Homo sapiens: one gene and its partners. The protein of the gene in region 5 purifies or fractionates together with the protein of the main gene of each other region. This does not show direct contact. Each region holds a gene or a part of one and is shown on either strand. Other genes may lie near its edges.

The links.
Region 1: the proteins of SLC10A5 (region 5) and LRP12 purify together in Homo sapiens (affinity purification with mass spectrometry; one large-scale study listed by BioGRID and IntAct). This does not show direct contact.
Region 2: the proteins of SLC10A5 (region 5) and WRNIP1 purify together in Homo sapiens (affinity purification with mass spectrometry; one large-scale study listed by BioGRID and IntAct). This does not show direct contact.
Region 3: the proteins of SLC10A5 (region 5) and MAN1A1 purify together in Homo sapiens (affinity purification with mass spectrometry; one large-scale study listed by BioGRID and IntAct). This does not show direct contact.
Region 4: the proteins of SLC10A5 (region 5) and TMEM59 purify together in Homo sapiens (affinity purification with mass spectrometry; one large-scale study listed by BioGRID and IntAct). This does not show direct contact.
Region 6: the proteins of SLC10A5 (region 5) and PCSK1N purify together in Homo sapiens (affinity purification with mass spectrometry; one large-scale study listed by BioGRID and IntAct). This does not show direct contact.
Region 7: the proteins of SLC10A5 (region 5) and CDH2 purify together in Homo sapiens (affinity purification with mass spectrometry; one large-scale study listed by BioGRID and IntAct). This does not show direct contact.

The regions. Positions count from the first base shown.
Region 1 is NC_000008.11:104,579,259-104,582,758, forward strand, and holds part of LRP12 (low-density lipoprotein receptor-related protein 12 isoform a precursor), read right to left. Parts: intron 1-3,500. UniProt on the Homo sapiens protein: Probable receptor, which may be involved in the internalization of lipophilic molecules and/or signal transduction. May act as a tumor suppressor.
Region 2 is NC_000006.12:2,771,893-2,775,392, forward strand, and holds part of WRNIP1 (ATPase WRNIP1), read left to right. Parts: intron 1-1,045; coding exon of another isoform or gene 1,046-1,106; exon of another isoform or gene 1,107-1,159; intron 1,160-3,500. UniProt on the Homo sapiens protein: Functions as a modulator of initiation or reinitiation events during DNA polymerase delta-mediated DNA synthesis. In the presence of ATP, stimulation of DNA polymerase delta-mediated DNA synthesis is decreased.
Region 3 is NC_000006.12:119,199,762-119,203,261, reverse strand, and holds part of MAN1A1 (mannosyl-oligosaccharide 1,2-alpha-mannosidase IA), read left to right. Parts: intron 1-1,914; coding exon 1,915-2,008; intron 2,009-3,500. UniProt on the Homo sapiens protein: Involved in the maturation of Asn-linked oligosaccharides. Progressively trim alpha-1,2-linked mannose residues from Man(9)GlcNAc(2) to produce Man(5)GlcNAc(2).
Region 4 is NC_000001.11:54,026,181-54,029,204, forward strand, and holds the end of TMEM59 (transmembrane protein 59 isoform 2 precursor), read right to left. Parts: 3' UTR 501-3,024; downstream 1-500.
Region 5 is NC_000008.11:81,693,131-81,696,477, reverse strand, and holds SLC10A5 (sodium/bile acid cotransporter 5 precursor), read left to right. Parts: upstream 1-1,419; 5' UTR 1,420-1,505; coding exon 1,506-2,822; 3' UTR 2,823-2,847; downstream 2,848-3,347.
Region 6 is NC_000023.11:48,832,811-48,836,854, forward strand, and holds the start of PCSK1N (proSAAS preproprotein), read right to left. Parts: upstream 2,801-4,044; 5' UTR 2,723-2,800; coding exon 2,609-2,722; intron 1-2,608. UniProt on the Homo sapiens protein: May function in the control of the neuroendocrine secretory pathway. Proposed be a specific endogenous inhibitor of PCSK1.
Region 7 is NC_000018.10:27,988,631-27,992,130, reverse strand, and holds part of CDH2 (cadherin-2 isoform 1 preproprotein), read left to right. Parts: intron 1-1,780; coding exon 1,781-2,034; intron 2,035-3,464; coding exon 3,465-3,500. UniProt on the Homo sapiens protein: Calcium-dependent cell adhesion protein; preferentially mediates homotypic cell-cell adhesion by dimerization with a CDH2 chain from another cell. Cadherins may thus contribute to the sorting of heterogeneous cell types.

The DNA of each region.
Region 1 (3,500 bases), about 23 Mb from region 5:
TATCACTAACATTCCTATACACCAACAACAGTCAAGCTGAAGCCAAATCAGGAATGTAATTCCATTCACAACTGCCATAAAAAGAATAAAATACCCAGGAACACAGCTAACCAGGGAGGTGAAAGATCTCTAGAAGGAGAACTATAAAACTACGCTTACAGAAATCAGAAATGACACAAACAAATGAAAAAACATTCTATGTTTATGGGTAAGAAGAATCAATACTGTTAAAATGGCCATACTGCCCAAACCAATTTACAGATTCAATGCTATTCCTATTAAATGACCATTGACATTCTTCACAGAACTAGAAGAAACTATTTTAAAATTCATATAGAACCAAAAAAGAGCCCAAATAGCAGAGGTAATCCTAAGCAAACAGAAGAAAGCTGAAGAAATCATGCTACCCAACTTCAAACTACACTACAGGTCTACAGTAACCAAAACTGCATGGTACTCGTACAAAAACAGACACATAGACCAATGGAACACAATAGAGAACCCAGAAATAAGGCAGCACATCTACAACTAACTGATCTTCAACAAACTTGACAAAAATGAGCCATAGGAAAAGGATTCCTTATTCAATAAATGGTGCTGGGGTAACCGGCTAGTCATATGCAGAGGACTGAAACTGGACCCCTCCTTACACCATATACAAAAATTAACTCAAGACGGATTGAAGACTTAAATATAAAACCCAAAACTATAAAAACCCTGGAAGACAAGCTAGGCAATACCATTCTAGACACAAAAATAGGCAAAGATCTCAGGATAAAGATGCCAAAAGCAATTGCAACAAATGCAAAAATTGACAAATGGAATCTAATTAAACTGACGAGCTTCTGTCCAGCAAAGGAAACGGTCAACAGAGTGAATAGGCTACCTACAGAATGGGAGAAAATTTTTGCAAACTACGCATCTGACAAAGATTCATAATTTGCAAAATATCCAGCATCTATTAAGAACTAATCTAGGCTGGGTGCGGTGGCTCACGCCTGTAATCCCAGCACTTTGGGAGGCCCAGGCAGGTGGATCACGAGGTCAGGAGATTGAGACCATCAGGACTAACACAGTGAAACCCTGTCTCTACTAAAAATAAAAAAAAAAAAAAAAAAAAAATTAGCCGGGCATGGTGGTGGGTGCTTGTAGTCCCAGCTACTCGGGAGGCTGAGGCAGGAGAATGGCATGAACCCGCGAGGCGGGGCTTGCAGAGAGCCAAGATTGTGCCACTGCACTCCAGCCTGGGCGACAGAGCAAGACTCCGTTTCAAAAAAAAAACAAAACAAACAAACAAAAAATTAATCTAAATCTATAAAGAACTTAAAACACATTTACAAGAAAAAAACCCATTGAAAACTGGGTAAAGGACATGAACACTTTTCAAAAAAAGACATACATACAGCCAACAATCATATGAAATATAGCTCAACATCACCAATCAGAGAAATGCAAATCAAAACCACAATGAGATACCATCTCACACCAGTCAGAATGGCTAATTATTAAAAGGTCAAAAAAATAACAAATGCTTGCGAGGTTGTGGTGAAAAAGGAATGCTTGTACACTGTTGGGAGAAGTGTAATTAGTTCAATCATTGTGGAAGACAACGTGGCGACTCCTCAAAGACCTAAAAACAGAAATATCATTGACCCAGCAATCCCATTACTGGGAATACACCCAAAGGAATATAAATTGTTCTATTATAAAGACACATGCATGTGTTATGTTCCTTGTAGCACTGATTCACAATAACAAAGACATGGAATTAACCTAAATGCCCATCAATGACAGACTGGATAAAGAAAACGTGGTACACATATACCATAGAATACTATGTAGTCATAAAAAAGAACAAGAACATGTCCTTTACAGGAACTTGGATGGAGGTGGGGGCCATTATCCTTAGCAAACAAATGCAGGAACAGAAAACCAAATGCTGCATGTTCTCACTTATAAGTGGGAGCTAAATGATGAGAACACATGGACACATAGAGGAAGGGGAACAACACATACTGGGGCCTGTCAGAAGGTGGCGGGTGGGACAAAGGAGAGGATCAGAAAAAATAACTACTGGGTACTATATACGATATGATGTACAGATATCACTAGATATGATGTAACATATCACTAGGTGATGAAATAATCTGTACAACAAACAGATTAATAATTATGTACAACAAACCCCCATGTAATAATTGTGTACAACAAACCCCCATGACACAAGTTTACTTATATAACAAACCTGCACATGTACTCCTGAACTTAAAAGTGAAAAAAAAAAAACTAGCCAGATCATGAAAGCTCTGCTGAGTTTAATTTATATTTTAAGAACAGGGAACTGCTGTTGGGTTTTAAGCAAGAAAGTTACATTATCAGATCTGTACTTTAGATAAGTCACTCTGGCTACTGCTAAGTGTGATATGATTCAATCAGGACAAGACTAGAGCTAAGACTAGTTGGTGGCTGTTACAATAATGTAGACAAAAAAAAAATAATGGGCCTCTACACGAAGAGCACAGCAGTAGACAGACATGAACCTTAGGCAAAACTACTATTCTCAAAGCTTCAGTTTCTTCTAATAATACCTACCTCACACAATGATTTTGAGAATTAATCATGGCATTTTTTGTATAGGTGTTCTGTATTCTCTTAGCAAAACTTTCACAAGCAATAATAATTTCACGAAACAATTCTACTTCAAAATATATCAGATACAAAGATTATTCTTATGTTTTCTCCAATATATGTAAAAAGATGCCTTAACTATTAATGAAATTAAGTCAGATTATGAAAGGTTTACTCACTTATATTTGAAAAAGTAAATTCCAACTACTAAACATCCTATTGTGCTCCATTTAATCCTAATATTAAAAGATTGGCATCATTTTTAATTTCTCTAAAAACTGAAATGTAAGTGAATTAAAGGTAGGTATCAAGTTAGTCTCACTCAATGACAAAACATGAGCATAAAACAATTTCACATCTTCACCAAACTGATACCAGCAAGTAAATGAGTTATTAACTATTTAAGAGGAAAACTAGAAAACTCTTTTGTCAGTTTTATTTACTTTGAAGTTTTGGGACCTACTAAAGTTATATCTTCTGTAAAGCTACACAATAAAAAAAAAAGATAAAAGCTCAATTTTTCCAAATCTGCTCTGAAATTCACCAATCTTTTAATACATTCTTGCCTCTACCAAAGACAATCTGATTTCTAAAGCAATCTTTATTGATAGCTTAGCAGAAAGCATTTAACTTTGGCAAAAAGGTATTGGAAATCCAGCTTTTGCTCCACCCTTTGCTTCTTGCCTGAAATACACTTAAAACATTGTAAAAAGTTATGTTCTATACTTATTTCATTGACAAAATGACTGCCCTCAGAACTGAGTTCTCCACAGAACCCTTCTTAAGGTTCCTCCCCTTGTAATTTAAGTCCATCTCTTCCTGTCATCTGCTGTACAACTATTCATAATATATGTGCTTGTATAGTGTTCATA
Region 2 (3,500 bases), on a different chromosome or scaffold from region 5:
GGTTATCGTAATGTATCTGCAACTTAATATTCTGCATGTGTACTTGTCTGGGGTGATTTTTATTGATTTCATGTCATCAGTTCATGAAATAGAACATGAAATCAATAATTAATATTGATGACATGAAGTCAATAATAATCAGTTGTTACTCAGATACCCTCAGGTTTTTTCACCTCTCCCCAGTCACTGCCGTGCAGGAATTTAAAGGAAATGAGAAAGGCGGCAGCCAAGGAGCTCATCCTTGTGAGAAGAATTTCTATATTTTATTATTAAAAATCCTCAGGTGATTTGCAGGCACATTAAAGTTTGAGAAGATCAAGTGAAATAATTAAGATTTAGTTATTGAAACTGATATAACAATGAGCTAGAGATTGTTTATCTGCTAAAATTGCTTTTCAGAGAAAACTTCCCATATCCAGTAAATGATTTACTATTTCCACTACCGCTTGCTTAGACTTGATCCCAATTATATTTGCTATCTTGTGTCCCCCGCTTTCCTGGGAAGACTGTGAGGACAGGAGCTTGTCCCTGTTCATATCCCCAGCACAGTGCCTGGCACACATTATGTGCTTTGTGAATGGTTTGGAAATGAATAAATCCTAGCTTTCGATATGAGAAAAGTAGTTTAATATGTTTTGCATTATCCAGCATAAGGGATAATTACCCAGGTATCAAGAGCCTTTTTCTTTAATACTATTGCCCTTTTCATCAGCAGCAAGCAGAGTAAAATGAAAGAATGTTAAGCTTAAAACCATTAATTGGTCAACTTGTTAGCAATTCTAACAAGAAGTTAAGTTAGGAGATATCATAGGCCACAGAAAGAACTCTTACAAGTGATTTCCGAATACAAGTACCTGCCACCCCAACTGTCAGGGATAATTAAGAGTGGATTGGGATGTCTTTTAGTTGTTTTAGGTAAAATTTTGCTTTCCAATCCCTGTTGACAGCTCTATATACATCCTTGTGCATATAAATCAGATTTGGTGACACTAATCTAGTTGAAAGAAAAGACTTCCAACCCCATATACTTACTTTCTCTCTCCAGGAAGCTATTGGTGTGCATTTGTATTCTTGTGTCATGTTTTGGTGCCCTAGATAGCAACTAGAACATTTACAGAGAAGTCCCAGGCTGTTGAACTGCACGTGAGAGGAGGTGAGCAGGGCACTGGATTTGGAAACTAATCAAGCTGCCGCTTAGCCGTTCTTGATTGCACTTGAGGAATTGTGAGTTGTCACACAGTATACTCATGTAAGTGATAAATTCCCATTAAAGTGAAATAAGTGTTCTTTTTTTAAAAAAAAATTCCCTCCTGTAGTTATTATTCAGTCAAAATTGAAGCTCCTGCATATGCTAGGCATTGGCTGAGGGTTGAAAAGCTTGTTCCTGTGCCTTCAGAGGGAGCGCAGTATGATGAAGGCTAGGGGAGCAGGTCCACTTCCAGTGCCACGCTTATACGCCAAGTGCAGTGGGCGTAGAGAAGCAGCATTCAGAATATGTGAAATCCAGTATTTCACCTCCTAGATGAGGGGATGCGGAGTTGAGTTTTGAAGGATAAGCAGAATTTAACTGAGTGAAATAGAAAGCTCATTGTCTACGCCATAGTTGCTTTGGTTTGTATGGCTAAGCAGTAGTGTTCAGGTATTTTGCTCTCCCAAAAATATTTGGATCACATGATACAAACAGTGAAGATTCTGTCTGCTCTGGGTTAATTTTGGAGGCCAGGAAAAAAATGTCCATGATTCATGATACGAAGAATGAGCTTGTGCTGCTGAAAATGAAAAAGTAAGCTAGCATTTCGTCATCCTGCACTACTTGCTGCTTTGAAGGAATATAGATTCCTAGGTCATAGAATATATACATAGTCAAAAACACTCCTAAAGAATCAATTATTTGTGAACCAGATAGAGTATACAAGTCTTTGGAGATCAAGAGAGTGAAATGAGAAGCCATAACTGCCCTCTGCCTAGCTAGGCTGAGTTCCGAGAGGTGGTTGGAAGACAGAAAGTGGCGTCTGTCCCTGGGTAAGGGCTGTGGCGTAACTGGGTGTGGGGCTTTTCTCTAATCATCTGGAGAGGAGAGCCCCTGACAAGCTGGCCCCCAAACAAGGTGGCTATGGATTCTTCTTTTTATAAAAGTTTAAAGTGTCTTAAATAACCTTTTGTGCCATTGAATAGAAAGAAAGGTAGTGGAACTCCAGAATACAAGGGATTGGCCAGAATAAATGGTTGGTATAGAGTAGATGTCAATCTTTTTATTTAAAAATTTTTTAAGTACATTAATACAGTACATTAACATAGCTGTTTTAATACAAGGGTGCATTAAAATAATGCCATAAAAGCACCAGCAGCCAGAACCACAGATCTCATGGTCCTTGGATGCACTTCCTGTGGCTGCTGTAACAATTGCCACAAACTGGGTGGCTCAGAACACAGAGCTTTATCCTCACAGTTCTGAAAGCCAGAAGACCAGAATCAAGGTATCAACAAGGCGATGCTCTCATCCAGCATCTGATGGCCCTTGGCATTCCTTGGCTTATGACTATGTCACTCCAGTCTCTACATCCATCTTCACATGGTGGCCTTCTTCTCTGTGTCCTTACGTCTTCTCTTTTTCTGTGTTTTGTAAGGACATTTGTCATTGGATTTAAGGTACACTCTAAATCCAGGATGATTTCATCTTGAGACCCTTAGTTACATCTACAAAGACCCTATTTCCAAATAAAGTCACAGTCACAGGTTCCAGGGATTAGGACTTACATCTTTTGGGGTCACTATTCAACCCACTACAGACCCCTACCAAGTATAATGTAATTTGGAAAGACATGTGCCTCCATGGGATTAAACAGAAAGACGTCGTCATCTGAAATGTACCTTCTCTCTTTGTGGAGAAAGTCAGTTTTGTTTTGCTTTGCTTTCACTCTGATGTTATGGAAGCGGCAGCATCTGGGGCTCTGCCTTGGATATGTGCAGTTCTGGAGAGTATGCTGTTGCACAGTCTGATGAGGGTGATTCTCCTCGCTGTTGATACCAAAGCAGTATTTGTCGAGTCTCATGACATGGCAGGCACTGCTCTAAGCATTCCACATGTCTTAATCTCATTCAGTCCTCAATACAGCTCTGCAAAGTAGATCTCATTACCTCCTATTTACTAGATGAGGAAACTGAGGCACAAAAAGGTTAAGTAACATGCCCAAGACCAACCAGCTTCAATGTGATGGAGCCAGTGTTTAAGGCATGTCTCTGTCTTCTCAGTGACTTCAAGTGCTACAAGGGGTGGAGGTGCCAAGTTTACAGAGGATGGACCCACTGCTCGGTTTTTCTGTTCTGACTTTTCTCTCTTGGCACTTCTTTGTGTAAGAGCAGCAGGAGAGCCTTTTAACCAGATCTGCACATCACACTTCCCTGGGATACATTTTAGAAACATGCCTTGCCCAGGGTCTGCCCCTGGAGATTTGAGCTCAGTCTATGGTAGGTAAGGTACATGTGGCTGTATTTGTGTC
Region 3 (3,500 bases), on a different chromosome or scaffold from region 5:
CCACTCTGACTAACATGGGATAGCCTCTCCACATCACCCTGTCCCGTTAACTCTCAATCAGCTCGGGTTACCATAACAAAAATGCAGCCAGAAACAACCGAAATTTATTTCTTACAGTTCTGGAGGCTGGGAAATCCAAGATCAAACTGCCCATGAGGTAGGTTTTATTCTGAGCCTCTTCCCTGGGCTTGTAGATGACGAGAACTGTCCCAGTGTGTGTTCACATGATGTCTTCTTTGTGCTCTGAGGGAGAGAAGGAGTCACAGAGAGAGAGAGAGAGCTCTTGTGTCTCTCATGAGGGCACTAATCCCATTTAAGGCTCTACCGTCATAACCTAATTACCATCTCCAAATAAATCTCCAAATACAATCACACTGGGAAGTAGGGTTTCAGCATATGAAATTAGGGGTATGCAGTTCAATCCATAGCACCCTTTTATTTTTTTCCACAGTATTTATCATCTCCTGACATACTATACAGTTAGGTGTTACTTAACAGTGTTTATTCAACAGTGGACCACATATGTGACAGTGGTCCTGTAAGTTTATAATGGAGTTGACAAAATTCCTACGGCCTTGTGACATCATAGTTGTCATAATGTCGTAGTGCAATGCGTTACTTACATGTTTGTGGTGGTGATGGCATAAACATACTCTACTCCCAGTCACATAAAAGTATAGCACATATAATTATGTACAGTACATAATATTTGATAATTAAATGACTGCATTACTGATTTATGTACTACTATGGTTTTTATTGTTATTTTAGAATGTACCACTTTTTTTTTAAGTTAGCTCTAGAAGCAAGGTCCTTCAAGAGGTATTCCTCTTCAAGGCATTATCATCACAGGAGTTGACAGCTCCATGCGTGCTACTGCCCCTGAAAGACCTTCCAGTGCGATAAGATGTAGAAGTGGAAGACAGTGATATTGATGGTCCTGTGGAGTCCTAAGCTAATGTGTATATGTGTCTTAGTTTTTAACAAAAAGTTTAAAAAGTTAAACAACTTTAAAAAGAAATTTTAAATAGAAAAAACTTATAAGAATATAAAGAAAGAAAATATTTTGGTACAACTATACAAAGTGTGTTTTAAGCTAATGGTTATTACAAAAGAGTCAAAATTTTTTTAATTAAAAAGTTTATAAAGTAAAATTACAGTAAACTAACGTTAATTTATTATTGAAAGAAAAATACTTTTATAAATGTATTAATAATGGCTAAGTGTACCATGTTTATAAAGTTTACAGTACTATACAGTAACGTCCCAGGCCTTCACATTCACTTATTACTCACTTACTAACTCATCCACTGCAACTTCCAGTCCTGCGAGTTTCATTCATGATAAATGCCCTATACAAAGTGCCCTGTATTTATGTATAGGGTTATAAAATGTATAACCCTATAGAAAGGTATCATTTTTCATCTTTTATAGTGTATTTTTCTGTGTTTAGATACACAAATACTTCAGTACAGTAACATATGCTACACAGGTTTGTAACCTAGAAACAGTAGGCTGTGCCAACTACATTTGTGACAGTGTGCTCTATGATGTTTGTACAAGAATTAAATTGCCTGTGTTTCCCAGCATGTATCCCTGTCATTAAGGGACACATGACTAGACTTATTGATTTATTGTCTGTCCCGTCCCACTAGGATGCACAATTCTAAGAGTGTGGTGACTTTGTTTATCCACTGGCCCCTTGTTCCTAGTATGGCATCTGGCTAATGGTAGATAACTAATCAGTGTGACTATATTCACTTACTGCCATTATGTTTGTAATAATAAGCTAACAGCAGTTATCTTTGTTCTAACTCTGCATCATTTAAGTCAACTTGTATGTTCAAGAAGAAGAAGAATGGCATGAAAATTGTTTTTTAGATTTTCACGGTAACATTTTATTTTCTATTATAGGTAATGAATATTCGAACAGTACTGAACAAACTGGAAAAACCACAAGGCCTTTATCCTAACTATCTGAATCCCAGTAGTGGACAGTGGGGTCAACGTAAGTCAGAAGATTTGCATTATTATAGCTCTTTTTGGTACTGTACTCGTGGAGAGAGAGGAAGCACAAAAGCAGCACAGATTTTGTTGAGAAATGTTTAGAAAAGGAGAAAAGGGCATGGCTCCTTTAATAAACAGGCTTCTGTCATCAGATTGTGTTATTAGGACACTGGATTGTGTATTTTTCATATATAACTCCAAGTGTGATGACATATAAGCACATTTACAGCTATTAATCAGAAAGGGAAGATCTGGCCAGAGTAGTGTGGGGATGTTAATCTGTAACAAGCTGGTCATGTGGATAGAAAGGAAATTCATTCCTTTGTACTAATGACTATGAGGGTTTTATAGAGAGTAGGTAGACCATTCTGCTTCCTAACATTCTGTTTCTGCATGGCTATATAATGAGAGAGGAGCCTGAATTTTTAAGAGTTGGGAAATTGGAAGAGCAAACAGCCTGTTTTTCTCTTCTTAATTTTAAGCTGCCAGATATAAAGGTTTCTTGCCAGTAGAATTACCTTTAGGATGGGAGAAAGTATTGCACAAGAACTTTTGATCCTAGAAGCCTGCACTTAAGACTCTTCAGACGATTTTGAGCAGGGGCATAAAGATTCAGAGTAGTTGAAAGAAATGTTCTCAAGCTGATTTGGAAAAACAGTAGTAGATTAAATAGCTGAAAACAAGTGAAGAATATTGAGATACCCAACTGTAGCAAGAGTACACTGCCTTAAGATTTTACTCTAATTTGGGTTTTTTCTTTATATTTTAATATCATGTTCTTAGATACCTCATTATTACTTTAGAAGTACTTTTCTTAAAGAATAGTTTAATAGGAAAGTATATGCCAAAATCCATATGCTAAAATATGTCTGTAGCTCTGGAAGGCCTAGCTGTTGAAACCTTAGGACTATAATCAAGGTTACCACTTACCTAAGTGTGGTCAACAGATCACTGGAAGTCCTTGAGACCTCTGAGGAGGCCCACAAGGTCAAAAATATTTTTATTATAATACTAGTATAATGATATATAATAACAAGACATATAATACATGTCTTAGTCATATTTACTAAGCCAGTACACAGTATCTTGCACTTAGTGGATGTTTACTTACTTAAATTTTGTGAATACATATGTGCTCTGTATCTCATCTCTCTTTCTGCCTCTGCTTTTAATAGTGGTACTTTGAAAGACTTTCTGCCTTTTCTAATGTGTTGATATTTACACCTACAGTGTTAGGTGATACTGCTGAAGCCTCACTGAGAACAAAGGCGAACAAACACCAAATAGTACTAATATTCATATTTTTTCTTTTTTTTTTCTTTTTTGTGGGACAGGGTCCCACTGTGTCACCCAGGCTGGAGTACAGTGTCATAATCTCAGCTCATTGCAACCTCTGCCTCCTGGGCTCAAGCTGGGCTCAAGCTATCTTCCCACCTCGGCCCCCCGCCCCGAGTAGCTGGGACTACAGGTGCACGATGCCATGCTCAGCCAAT
Region 4 (3,024 bases), on a different chromosome or scaffold from region 5:
CACCGCGCCCGGCCCATTGCCTACTTTTTAATGGGGTTGTTTTTTCTTGTAAATTTAGTTCCTTATAGATGCTAGATATTAGACCTTTGTCAGATGCATAGTTTGCAAATATTTTGATCAGTGATGTTGAGCTTTTATTCATATGCTTGTTGGAAGCATGTATATATTCTTTTGAGAAGTGTCTGTTCATGCCCATTGCCCACTTTTTAATGGGGTTGTTTTTTTCTTGTAAATTTGTTTAAGTTCCTTATAGATGCTAGATATTAGACCTTTGTCAGATGCATAGTTTGCAAATATTTTCTCCCATTCTGAAGGTTGTCTTCCAGGGTTTTTGTAGTTTTGGGTTTTATATTTAAGTCTTTAATCCACTAGATGGATGTTATAAGAATCCATTTAAGGTGATAGGTGAGAGTGCTACAAAGGGCTTTGCAAATGTCATGGGGAATCAACAAACCCACCCCATTGTGAATTACCTAAGTAGACACTTTTACAAGATAGCATTATTTTTTAATGCAGATGATCCAAGTTTTATTAAAGTTTACATACTTAAGCATAAATAAATTAACAGATTTGTAGCACCAATAATGGTGGCATGATGGTACACCTGGAGGTAACATTATCAAGAGCTTTTGTTGAAACCTTTCATTTTCAATCAGGTGCTGATTTTTTTCCACCCAAGTCTTCAATTATTACTGTTCTAACACTGCAAAAACCATTCAAGCATAAAAAAGCATGCAAGAGGCAGTAAAATAAGCCCAAATAATTGAGAATTGAACAAGAAAACAAAATAATTTACTCTTAAAATGACAAAAGTAAAATTAAGACAACCTCTAAACCAGGGGTCTGGTGAACTTGGATGGGAAAAATTTTAAATCTTTCTTTTCACCAACTTCTAACTGAAATATAACATTTCCTTCAATTACGAATATAGGAAACAGTCCACAGTAGGATCAGAGTACCTGTGACTTTGTCACCAATAGAAATGAGACATTTAGATATATTACAGTTGTTAGATATTTCAAGATATGAATTTGAATTATAGTAATTTTAGAACCACCATGCAGTCTTATTTTGTGTTAACAGAATATGTATGTTACTGGATCATAAAACTTTGAAAATATCAACTTTATTTTAACATGATCAGTTTCCTTTGCGATCCTTTATATTTAGTTTTATGCTTTGAAAACATTACTATGAGAGGGGGTCCACAGGCTTCACTGGATCACTAAAAAGCTCAATGGCACAAAAAAGTTTGAAACAAATAAGTCATTAATATCACAGGAAGAGAGTACTTAATAGTGAAATAGGGTGGGTGCAGTGGCTCATGCCTGCAATCCAAACACTTTGGGAGGCTGAGGCGGGCAGATTACCTGAGGCCAGGAGTTCGAGACCAGCCTGGGCAACATGGCAAAACCCCATCTTTACTAGAAATACAAAAATTAGCCAAGCATGGTGGCACGCGCCTGTAGTACCAGCTACTTGGGAGGCTGAGGCACGAGAATCGCTTGAACCTGGGAGCTGTGGAGGTTGCAGTGAGTCAAGATTGTACCAGTGCACTCCAGCCTGAGTAACAGTGTGAGACTCTGTCTCAAAAAAAAAAAAAGTGAAATATATGAAGCTGACTTCAACAGTAACAGATTTCAGAAAAGGTCTAAAAACTGTGCTCCAGAATTTAATTACCACAAGGAGTTAGAAAATCCACACTACCATCCAGCTTCCTAAACAGAAGACTAAATTTCCCGCTATCCCTGTCTTTACCACTGTACTCACCCCCACCCTAGACTCTAGTGTAGAACAAGTAGTCAAGGAAAGAGAGATTAAAATGGTCACTCATGCAGATGATACCCAAATGCAAACATGACACGCTTAGCAACTGGAAACCTGGTGGGAGGGGCGCAAGAGCACGCTGGCTTCCTAGAGACTGGTTGGCAAACGTAGAATTAAGAGGATGGTGATAAGAAACCAGGGATCCATGGGGCAGCCTTCCCAGTTTGCTCAAACATTCTGTTGCCAGGCTGTGACCAGGACTCAGAGACCAGTCCTAGGTTTACCATCCAGACAACAATGTGGGGGAGCAGAGAGAGCGTTATAGAGAAAAGTTTAAAAATATAAGTAAAATGAAATAGTATTCTTGGGTATTAAAAAAAGAACTCTGAGGCTAAGATTATTGTTGGCCTCTGGACTTGCCCTTTCTGGTCTATCTTCCACATTGCTGTCCGAGTGAATCATTCCAACACTGTATGGCACTCTCTTGCTTAAAATCTTTCAGTGGCTCTCTACTGTGCTCAGGATCAAGTGCAGGTTTAAAGTGCAGGTTTATTACCTGGTCTGCCTAGCCCCATCTTTTGTTATGCTTTTGTATGCTCTATCTCGGCCTACTCAACAATCTGCAGTGCCTCACCCTCTGGCCTCTAGGTCTTTGAGCACAGTGTCCCCACTGTCTGGTACACTGCTCTCTATATTGTGTTTGGCGTTCCCTTTTTCTCCAGGTTTAAGCTTGGCTATCACTTTCTCCCAGAAGTCCTCCTGTGTGCTCCCATAATGCATACAGCTCCTCCTATGTGCTCTGTGCTTGGTCATAGCACTTATCACATTAATAATAGTCTCCTTCAGAGTCTCAGCAATTGGGGTCAGGCACTGGGTCTTACTGTGGTCCTAGCATTTAGCATAGGGCCTGCCACTCAGGATCTCAGGTGGTTGTTGAATGGTTAAATTGTGGATCTATAAAGGCAGAACTGAGCAAAATTACTGCCTTGGTGTGGTGGTGACAGTAACTGGAAATCTCTGTCAATGATTCCCTACATGTGGACTTGATATTTGAGTCCACAAAAATTATAATGGAACTACTGTATATCTTTAAAAAACTTGTAACAAAAATGGCTCATTTATCTAAGACAAATCCAGACAGACTAATAACAAAGGGTAAATTGTTTGCCTTTGGCTGGAAGATAAGCTCAGACAGTGCAGGGTTTTCTGCTGATCAGCAGCTCAGATTGCCTCATGATGCACCACAGGGATTTCTGA
Region 5 (3,347 bases):
CTAAAGATAACTTAGGTTTTATGACATTTTTGTTTTTTGTTTTGTTTTTGTCAGTTAAAATAGGGAAATTTTAACTGAAATATCAATGAACAGTCCCATTCCCTATCCTCACCATTGGTACAGCGGATCTTGTTTTTCTTAATGTGGTACATATTAATAAAATTTATGAGACCTAAGGTCTACTGCATTTGAAAGATTAACCGACATAAATGGTATACTTTTATAAAACTCGTTAAAATGACAAAAAGGTTTCACATTTTTGAGGAACAAATGATCTAAAATACTTAATACAAATTGGCATTACCTTGAACACATTGCATCATGATTACATGAAAGAGCTGCTGAAATGGTCATGTGTTCAGAGACTACTACATCTGTAGGCTTAATAGTAAACGTTTGGTTGGTTGGTTGGTCGGCTGGTTGGTTTGCTGCTTAGCATCAGGACACCCACCCCTTGTGTGGGAAATATACAAGTGTGTGAGTCTATGGGTTGAAATCCAAAAAGCCTGATGCTTTTTCTCATTCCTGGCAACCAAGGGATATGACCAAATTGGGTCAATTGAATGCCCTTGCCCCTAACTGTGAACAGAGAGTAGTGTTACAAACAAGGAATAAAAGATTAGAATCAATGCCAGTGTCTTTCCATTGCCCCATCGTGTCAGGGTCCAAGTGTCCAGTAGCTGTGGTCCCTTAACCAGCCTGTACCTTTGGCCGTGGCACCAGCTACCTACTTTCCCTATGTCCCCAAGTTATCTGGTAACCATTCAGGAATTTTTTTTCCTACTTAGGTATACAAAAAACAGTGTCAGTTTTTGCTTGACAGATTAAATCATCCTTCAGAGATGCAGGAAAACTATTAGCAGCCAAGGGATGCTGCCAAGGCCAGTGTCTGGGCTCTGCAGTTTTCTAACTTGTGATATTGGGTCACCCCACTAAGCTCCAGGAGAGCAGCGACTGCATCTGGCTTAATCATTATGGGATGGCCAGCTCCCAATTCCATGCCCTAGGCAAAGAGACATTCAGTGAATATTGATTTGACTTCGACTTGATTGAACAAAATGGTAACACTGAACTCTAGGTTTCCTCAGTGTCTGTTACAGATTTCTTGATCCTGACTGCTTTTAATTTTTTTTTTTTTAGCAAGAAATAACTAACGAATGATGACACTAAGCTTTAAATTCAAGTAAATAGGAGGCTTTTTTTTTTCGCATAAGCAGAAATGAGGAAATCAAGAGGAAGAGATTAGATTTCTGTTGTGATAAATCGAATCTGTTAAATGCCATGACTTTTTAATTGTCTTAATCACAAGTTAAACCGGTTGTGTTGCTGCTTAGATGGCTATATATTTGTTTAAAAGTACAGCAGTCCCTCCTACTGGACTTTGATCCTACAAAAACAACTGTTATCTAACTCACCCTCAGACTGTCACTGGAACACCTGCATGAAGAATGTTCTTTCATTTTTTAAAAACGATTTTGCATATATGATTTATTTCAGCTTTCAAAATGATTAGAAAACTTTTTATTGTTCTACTTTTGTTGCTTGTGACTATAGAAGAAGCAAGGATGTCATCGCTCAGTTTTCTGAATATAGAGAAGACTGAAATACTATTTTTCACAAAGACTGAAGAAACCATCCTTGTAAGTTCAAGCTACGAAAATAAACGGCCTAATTCCAGCCACCTCTTTGTGAAAATAGAAGATCCTAAAATACTACAAATGGTGAATGTGGCCAAGAAGATCTCATCAGATGCTACAAACTTTACCATAAATCTGGTGACTGATGAAGAAGGAGAAACAAATGTGACTATTCAACTCTGGGATTCTGAAGGTAGGCAAGAAAGACTCATTGAAGAAATCAAGAATGTGAAAGTCAAAGTGCTCAAACAAAAAGACAGTCTACTCCAGGCACCAATGCATATTGATAGAAATATCCTAATGCTTATTTTACCACTAATACTATTGAATAAGTGTGCATTTGGTTGTAAGATTGAATTACAGCTGTTTCAAACAGTATGGAAGAGACCTTTGCCAGTAATTCTTGGGGCAGTTACACAGTTTTTTCTGATGCCATTTTGCGGGTTTCTTTTGTCTCAGATTGTGGCATTGCCTGAGGCGCAAGCTTTTGGAGTTGTAATGACCTGCACGTGCCCAGGAGGGGGTGGGGGCTATCTCTTTGCTCTGCTTCTAGATGGAGATTTCACATTGGCCATTTTGATGACTTGCACATCAACATTATTGGCTCTGATCATGATGCCTGTCAATTCTTATATATACAGTAGGATATTAGGGTTGTCAGGTACATTCCATATTCCTGTTTCTAAAATTGTGTCAACACTCCTTTTCATACTTGTGCCAGTATCAATTGGAATAGTCATCAAGCATAGAATACCTGAAAAAGCAAGCTTCTTAGAGAGAATAATTAGACCTCTGAGTTTTATTTTAATGTTCGTAGGAATTTATTTGACTTTCACAGTGGGATTAGTGTTCTTAAAAACAGATAATCTAGAGGTGATTCTGTTGGGTCTCTTAGTTCCTGCTTTGGGTTTGCTGTTTGGGTACTCCTTTGCTAAAGTTTGTACGCTGCCTCTTCCTGTTTGTAAAACTGTTGCTATTGAAAGTGGGATGTTAAATAGTTTCTTAGCTCTTGCCGTTATTCAGCTGTCTTTTCCACAGTCCAAGGCCAATTTAGCTTCTGTGGCTCCTTTTACAGTAGCCATGTGTTCTGGATGTGAAATGTTACTGATCATTCTAGTTTACAAGGCTAAGAAAAGATGTATCTTTTTCTTACAAGATAAAAGGAAAAGAAATTTCCTAATCTAACAATTAAAGCATTACTGAATTCCTACTCTGGGTAGGGCACTGTGGGAGAGTAAAAGAATAACTATAATGATACCTGCTCTTAAGCCACTTATAATGTAATTAAAAATCTGACATTGGGGGGTAGAGAATACATATATATATATACACACACACACACACACACACACACACATTCGTATATGCTAAGTACTCAATGAGTGGTGGAGATGATAATACAGAAGTTCAGAGGAAGGAGACAACTTTGCAACTGTGTTGGTTTGAGAATGTTTTATAGGCTATGATGTCAATATGATACTTTCAGTGGTCTCCTAAATGAGACAGAGCAATAGAAAACTTATTTAGTGATTATGATATATCCTAAGTATTAAAAGAAGGAACACCCAGATAGCAGACATTTGACAAATTCTCACTCGGTGAATGAATTTGTAAATTTCATTAGCACATCAAAATAAGTATGTTTTAAAGTAAATGTGGCATCTCTGCCCTCAGAGCTAAGCTTTCTCCTGTCTTCCATGTTAACCCACC
Region 6 (4,044 bases), on a different chromosome or scaffold from region 5:
AATTTCCACAAGTTTAAAGAAATAAAAGAGGGTACCAATAATCTGAGCAAGGAATAAAAGATCATAAAAATGACTGTGAAGGTTTGGAAAAGAAACATACAGGCCACATATAAATATGTTTAAAAGGAGTGATGCCTGCAACACAAATAGTCAATGAAAGAGTAGTACACAGAAGATACAGAGAATTCCTAAAAAGTAGTAAGAGAAAAACAAACTCATACAGAAATAGAAAAAATACATGATCGCCTATTTCACAAAAATGATTACTAAACATATGAAAAATTGGGCCACGTGTAGTGGTTCATGCCTGTAATCCCAGCACTTTGGGAGGCCAAGGCAGGAAGATCGCTTGAGGCCAGGAGTTTGAGACCAGCCTGGTCAAAATGGCGAGACCCTGTCTCTACAAAAAATAAAACCAAAAAAAATGAGCGGGGCACAAGCCCATAGTCCCAGCTACTTGGGAAGATGAGGTGGGAGGATCACCTGAGTCCAGAAGCTCAAGGTTGCAGTGAGCCCAGATCGCACCACTGCACTCCAGCGTGCATGACAGAGGAAGACCCTGTCTCTAACAAACATAAAATAAAATTAAAAACCTCATTAGTAATCAGGGGAAAGCAAATTAAAATGCCAGGGAGATACTATGCATAATATAACCAAAAGATTGACCCAAATCAAAAAGTCTGATAATATGAAGTGTTGATATGAATGCAGAAAAATGGGAACTCTCATACTATGCTGGTGAGAATTAAACTGGCAAAGTAATTTTGCAGAGCGGTTTGACAATATCTAAAAAGATGCACATATCCTATGACCCACTCCTGGGATGTCACTCCCCAGAGCAGCTTTGGCACATACGCTACTGGTCACAAGTTCGTGAAAGATGACAGCAGCACTGTTCGTAATAGCATAAAAGGGCGGGGGAGAAAGAAAAGCCTGGAAACAGTCCAATGTCCACTGACAAATTGAGAATACATATATAAATCATGATGTCCTCATAGGATGTAATATTATGCAGCAATAAAAATAAATGAATTACAGCCACATGCATCAACTTGGATGAATCTCGTGACCAGAATAGAGCCAAGGGAAAAAAAAACGTCAAGTTCCAGAATTTCACTGCAGACTGCCTGAGACTACTAGACACCCTGAGGACTTCCTAGTGACCCCTAGTGACTACGAGGAACCAGTCACCCAGTATGATTCCGTTTCAATGATGTTCAAAAGCAGGAAAAACTAAACAATGGATTTTTTTTGAGAGCTACACATATGTGATAAGCTACAAACAAAAGTAAGGGATCAATGGACAGAAAATACAGAATAAGGACTGTGTGGGGACAGGGGCTGCCATGGCGAGGGGCACGCAGGGGCTTCTAACTCTTGGTCAGGCTCTATTTATTAAGCTGAGTGACTGCTACACGAGAGAGTTATTTTGTCATCATTCTTTACATTGTACATATATATTAAACACATTGTTACACGGATATAAGGTAACAGTTTTTTTTAATTCCCATCTTTGATGCAGACAGTATTGAAGAGCTAGAGGAGGATGCCTCTCCAAGTGCCCTTGCTGGCGCCCACCACTCCTCAGTCACCCCGGGGTATCACACTCACCAGCAATCACAGCCTCACACACACTCATGAGGACTGACAGGCCTGGAGATGTCACATATACAGCCCAACACTGCCACAGCCACATGCAAGGACCTGCACACGTTCACATCCGCAGCTGCTCCTGCAGTTACAATCGCCAAGCCACCCAGGTGCAAGGACATGCACCATCCTTAAAGACACAATGCAGCAGAGAGACATCATGGCTCCTCTCCTCAGGATGACACAGCTCCACAAAGAAACGGAGAGAAACAGTCTCAGGAACACGCAAACGAAATCCCAGGCACTTGGTCCAACAGAACCACTATGGAATGTGCACACGGAGATGCGAAGACCATTCCCTCTCAAACACAAACGAAATCACACACACACACACACACACACACACACACACACACACACAGAGAGAGAGAGACAGAGAGAGAGAGAGAGAGACACGCCCATAGGCCAAGCCAACACACATAATAAGGATTCACAAATATCCACACGGTGTCACTGAGAAAACAATCGGACGCACAAAAGAATCGCGCACAGAAGTATCCCGGTATCACACACACTACACACCCAGACGCACCACGGCACCTTTCTAGGACACTTGGAAGCGCTCAAACCAAAGAACACACACTTTCAAGGACACGACACCTCCACACCGCTCTCCTCACATCACACGCACACACACTGATGCGCGCGCGCCCTTTCTTAAAGCGCCTTAGTGCCGTGGACAGCGTCACAGGCACCGGGCACGGAGAGGTGGGCAGGGCACGGTTACCGGCGGCGCCCCGGACAACGCCACCCGCACAGGCAGAGACCAAGTCAGGTCTCAGGTGTGCCGGCGTGGCCTGGGCGCGGACCGGCGGCCGGAGCCCGGGCCACCCTCGTCGATCTCTCCGCACGTCCCGGGAGCCGGCTCGGGCGGGGGTGAGGCGGCGCAGCCCCAACCCCAACCCTCGCCGGTGGCATCCTCCCCCAACCCCCACCCCTCGCCGGACTGGGGTCGCACCTTTACCGGCCGCGCGCAGAGCGCGGGGGGCGGCCGAAACAGGCCGAGCAGCAGCAGCACCAAAAGGCCGACGCCCCCGGCCCGCGGCCCCCAGAGCAGCGGCGACCCCGCCATGCTGCCCCAGCGAGCCGGGCTCCGGACGGGCGGACTGGCTGGCAAGTGCGCAGTGCCGGGGCGAGCTGGCGAGGCTGCGGCGCTCTGCGGCTGCGCACGCCCGGAACCAGGCCCCCCCCCCCCCGCCCCCACCCCACCCACCCGACCGACGCAGGCGCAGCCTGGGGAGCTGGCAGCCCCACCAGACCTCCCGTCGCCATGGAGATGCCCAAAGGGCAAGGTGGAGAGCTGGCGGTTGCCATGGCAGTCGGAGGGCAGTTGCTGGGGCAACCGACCTTACTGTTACCTTAGTAGACAGGAAAACAGGCAAGAAAAATTGACTCAGTGGAGTGGAATGGGGGTCTGGTCCTCATCTCTCTTCCTGGGGGAGGAGATGGACTTTAGTTTGTTCATTAGATAAATAGTTAATGGATCACCCGCAGTGGGCCCGGCCCGCGCCAGGGAGATGGGTTCAATCTAGGTGATGTGACCATGGACAGCTCAGTTGGCCATTCTAAGGCTCAGGCTCTCAGCGGCGTAAAGGGGTTACTACTGACAGCCTCCCTCAAAGTGACCTTGGAGGTTTAGAATGACATTCAGTAGGAGCTCCATAAATGCTCCTTTCCATCCTCTCCTTGTCTCTTTGTGTTTTTTTTTTTCTGACAGTGTCTCGCTGTGTCCTCCAGGCTGGAGGACAGTGGCCGGATCTCAGCTCACTGCAATCTCCACCTCCAGGGTTCAACCAATTCTCATGCCTCAGCCTGCCAAGTAGCTGGGACTACAGGTGCCCACCACCACGCCTGGCTAATTTTTGTATTTTTGTAGAGATGGGGTTTCGTCATGTTGCCAGGTTGGTCTCCAACTTCTGAGCTCAAGCAATCGGCCCTCCTCGGCCTCCCAAAGTGCTGGGATTACAGGCGTTGAGCCACCATGCCTGGCCCCAGCCCAATACTTTCATCTCTCCATGGCTCTCTGTGTTTATCTTTCTGCCCTTATGTGCCCACAGCTCTCTCTGTGTCTTCCTCTCCCCATATGTCTCTCCTTGTCTATGACTTTCTCTCCTTTCATCTCTCCAACCGCTGTCTTGTCTCTGTCTTTATTTTACTGTCTATATCTACTTGTTTTCCATAGATAGATATATACATAGATACATATATGCATAGACTTTACCCATATATTGTTCCAGAAATAAGTTCAAGCCACTAAAATGACATATCAAAGGAAACAAGATCTTGAAAAAATGTATGTGTATCCATAGGGGGAAAAATGTTGGGGAGGAAATGTCATCAATGGTTATCTCTGGGGAGGTAACTAATGGTTTGTTACTTTCTCCTTTATACTTT
Region 7 (3,500 bases), on a different chromosome or scaffold from region 5:
GAGTAGGCAAGAAGAAAGCCTGCATTTTAGAAAGCTCTTGCATTTGCATGGCTGTTTTTAAATGCTATTTCCGAGACGTTAAGAAATGTATTCTTCTGATCTTATGGTCAAAAAGGAACCAAACAAAACAGTTGCATGCTAGAAGCCAAGGGGATGTTCTTCAAGAATAATAAATGCGTAGCTATAATGGAAAAGCCTGTTAAAGTGAACATCCCTTCCTTTTAGCCACCCAGTAAAGAGATTTACTTCTTTGCCTCCCACTTAAGCACTCTTGATTTGTAAGTGAACCTAAATATTGACCTTACATAGAAAGATGTGCTAAAGTGCCAGTTGCCAATAATTATGCAGATGCGGGAGTAGAATAGAATGGGAATGGAAACTCTCAGAAGGAACATAGTGATCAAAAGCACCAACTTGAGTCTGCTGTCTGTGTTAGAGTCCCAGCTCTGCTCCTGATATCTGTGTGATCATGGCCAACTATTTAACCACTGTAAATTCTAGGTTTCTTATGCAGAAAGGGGCTGATAACAGTATGTTAGTCATAGTGTTCTGAGAGATAAATGAGCTTCATACACATTAAAGGACTTTGAACTGTGCATATACCCCTTAGCATAAATGTTACATCAGGGGAAGGTTTCGTGTGGCTAGTGAAATCACTCTAAATATTGCAGTCTTAACTTTCTGGCTTTTTTTCTGTCTTGCTTAAAATACTAGAGAAAGGAATGTTGAATTGGGGATTTAGAGAGAAAAAAAGATGTGTTTGAAGATTTTTAAAAGGTGGTCTAGGGTACGAAACTGGTGCAGTTTCTGCTGATAATGAAGCTTTCTTATGAGCGTCACCTCTCGATCATTCTTAGGCTACCAATTATGAGCCTAAGAGATCTTAATGCTCTTGTTTTTCCTGTTATTACTGCACAGTAATGCTTATTTGCACATCCATTCGCAGGTGAACAAGGAAAATTAAGAGTGAATGTCCAGTCTAGTCATTTGACTCCTGGTAATATTTCTAGTGACAGCAAGATTCAGTGAACTTTGGAAGTTAGTATTTACATGAAGGGTTATTTGTGCATTGCATTTATCTAGAGTGTTTTTCTTAAATTTGGGGGTTTTACAGACCAATAAAATATCCAGAAATATTCCAGAAGACAGCAGAGTTTTAGTTTGCTAAGAGGAAAAGAAAAATATCTTCCACCTACCAACAGTATTATTTTTAAAAGGTGTGTGTGCGATTATGTATACATGTTTGTACTGCAAAATGTGTACTTCAAATTATGAAAGGTACTTTTAAATCAAATAAGTTTAGCTGTATTTAAAAATTACATTTTCTGATTTTTGGTTTGTTTTCTTCAATTCATCATAGACTGGTGAAAGCTTTCCTGGGTGAGGAGTGATCTTTGTACTAATGTTTGAGAGTATACATTTAGACCATCATGTTCTCACTTGACTTTATATTATTTAGTATTTTTAGTCAACAATGCTATTCTTAAGAATAATCAAGTTTTTAGATGTACCTAAATAAATAAATCTGTGCAGTAATCATGTGCACTGTTTTGTGAACATAAATCTTTTAAGTACTCAAGATTTATAATTAGGTTAAATTGGGATAAATATTTTGATAAGTGACCATGCTAATGCATGTTTTCCAGAAACTTGAGAGGAACCTTGTTATGTAGTGAATGAAGAAATTAATTTTTTGGAAATGGAGTTGATAGAGGAATAAACTACAGAATGCAAGCATTCTTATTTCCTGCAAAAATATGGCTTCCCTTTTATTTTCCAGCCAATCGACTTTGAAACAAATAGGATGTTTGTCCTTACTGTTGCTGCAGAAAATCAAGTGCCATTAGCCAAGGGAATTCAGCACCCCCCTCAGTCAACTGCAACCGTGTCTGTTACAGTTATTGACGTAAATGAAAACCCTTATTTTGCCCCCAATCCTAAGATCATTCGCCAAGAAGAAGGGCTTCATGCCGGTACCATGTTGACAACATTCACTGCTCAGGACCCAGATCGATATATGCAGCAAAATATTAGGTATGAAATGCTGTTTGTAGTGTTTTTGTAGCTTACTTATGTTCTATGCTGTGCATAAAATTTATCTAATTCACTATTTGAGTAGAAATTTTCATTGCAATCAAAACTACTTATTAAAAGATAATTTAAAATTCTTTGAATTTTCTTCTCAGTAAGTCAATGACTATATTAGATATAAATAGATATCTGTATCCATATTAAAATGGATTTACTATTTGAAGAAAAAGCTGTTCTTGTTTCTCTGTATCTGCCATTTTTACTTAAAAAATACTTTAAAATTATTTAGCCTGTGCCTTTATGCCAAACATCACAAAAAGGTTCCGCAGGGAACTTTCAGAGGCTTATAACATTTATCTCTCCTCCATGCATCATGAAGGAAAGAAAGCTTATGCCAAAACCAGGATCTAAGAGTTAATTATTTTCATTCCTTACCTGTACAGTAGTTATTGGACTTATGAAACCTATCTGTAAAGATTTCCAAACTCAGCAAAATGTAATTTATCCTTTCTGATGAGGGAGTGGATGGTTGCCAGAGCACACCCCATGCGACTGTTCTCCAAAGCTGGTGATGATCATTTTTAAAATGAACTTATATTTCATTAAACTTCTTACAGAACTGCTGCTAAAAGATAACTTTCTATTGTTATCTTTTATTAAATGTTAAATGTTCTCCATTTCTCTATTCACTGAAATCAAGATAACTATTAATAAATAGCCAGTTAATAGATGTATTGAAATCCTACAACTTGTACCTTTCCAAACATAGCATACCTTTTCCAATCCAACTGGTTATCTAATCTTTAAAAGTTAATCCCCACTCCAAATTTTAAAAAGGAATTTAAGCTGATAAATCTGCCAATTCAGACTCAAGACTGTAGGACTTTCTTTGCAAAGGTATAGATCTGAGGCTTGGCCCAGTGTGAAAGATTCAAGTAGGAATGGGATTATGGTGGTCTCTCCAGTGTGGCTTCATGTTGGCCATGATAAAGTGTTAAAATGTTTTAGGAGTGTTCTGTGATGCAGTATTCAATTTCTATTATAATTTCTCTTAACTCCTGTACATTGAGACTACTGCTTATCTAGAAACTATATTCAAGCTATTTTACCTGAACCATTGATATCTGTTGAAGTGGACAAGAACCTAAAATGATAACTTTCCAATCTGCTTTAGCCCACATTAGGGAGACTGTGCACCTAGTCTTGTCCCTCAGACACCTGTAGAATGTTTCCTACATGCCTGACCAAACACAACCTTTATGTGCCTCCCAATACCACTGTCACAAAAATACTTTTTCCTGTTAAAGCTGTATGTCCAGCCATCATCTACAGAAATGCAAGTTAATGAGCCAGTTGCATTTGGAACTAAACCTGTAAAATATGTTTTTTTAAAGTTTCATAAAAAGAAATTAAACTTCACTTTCATTTTGTAGATACACTAAATTATCTGATCCTGCCAATTGGCTAAA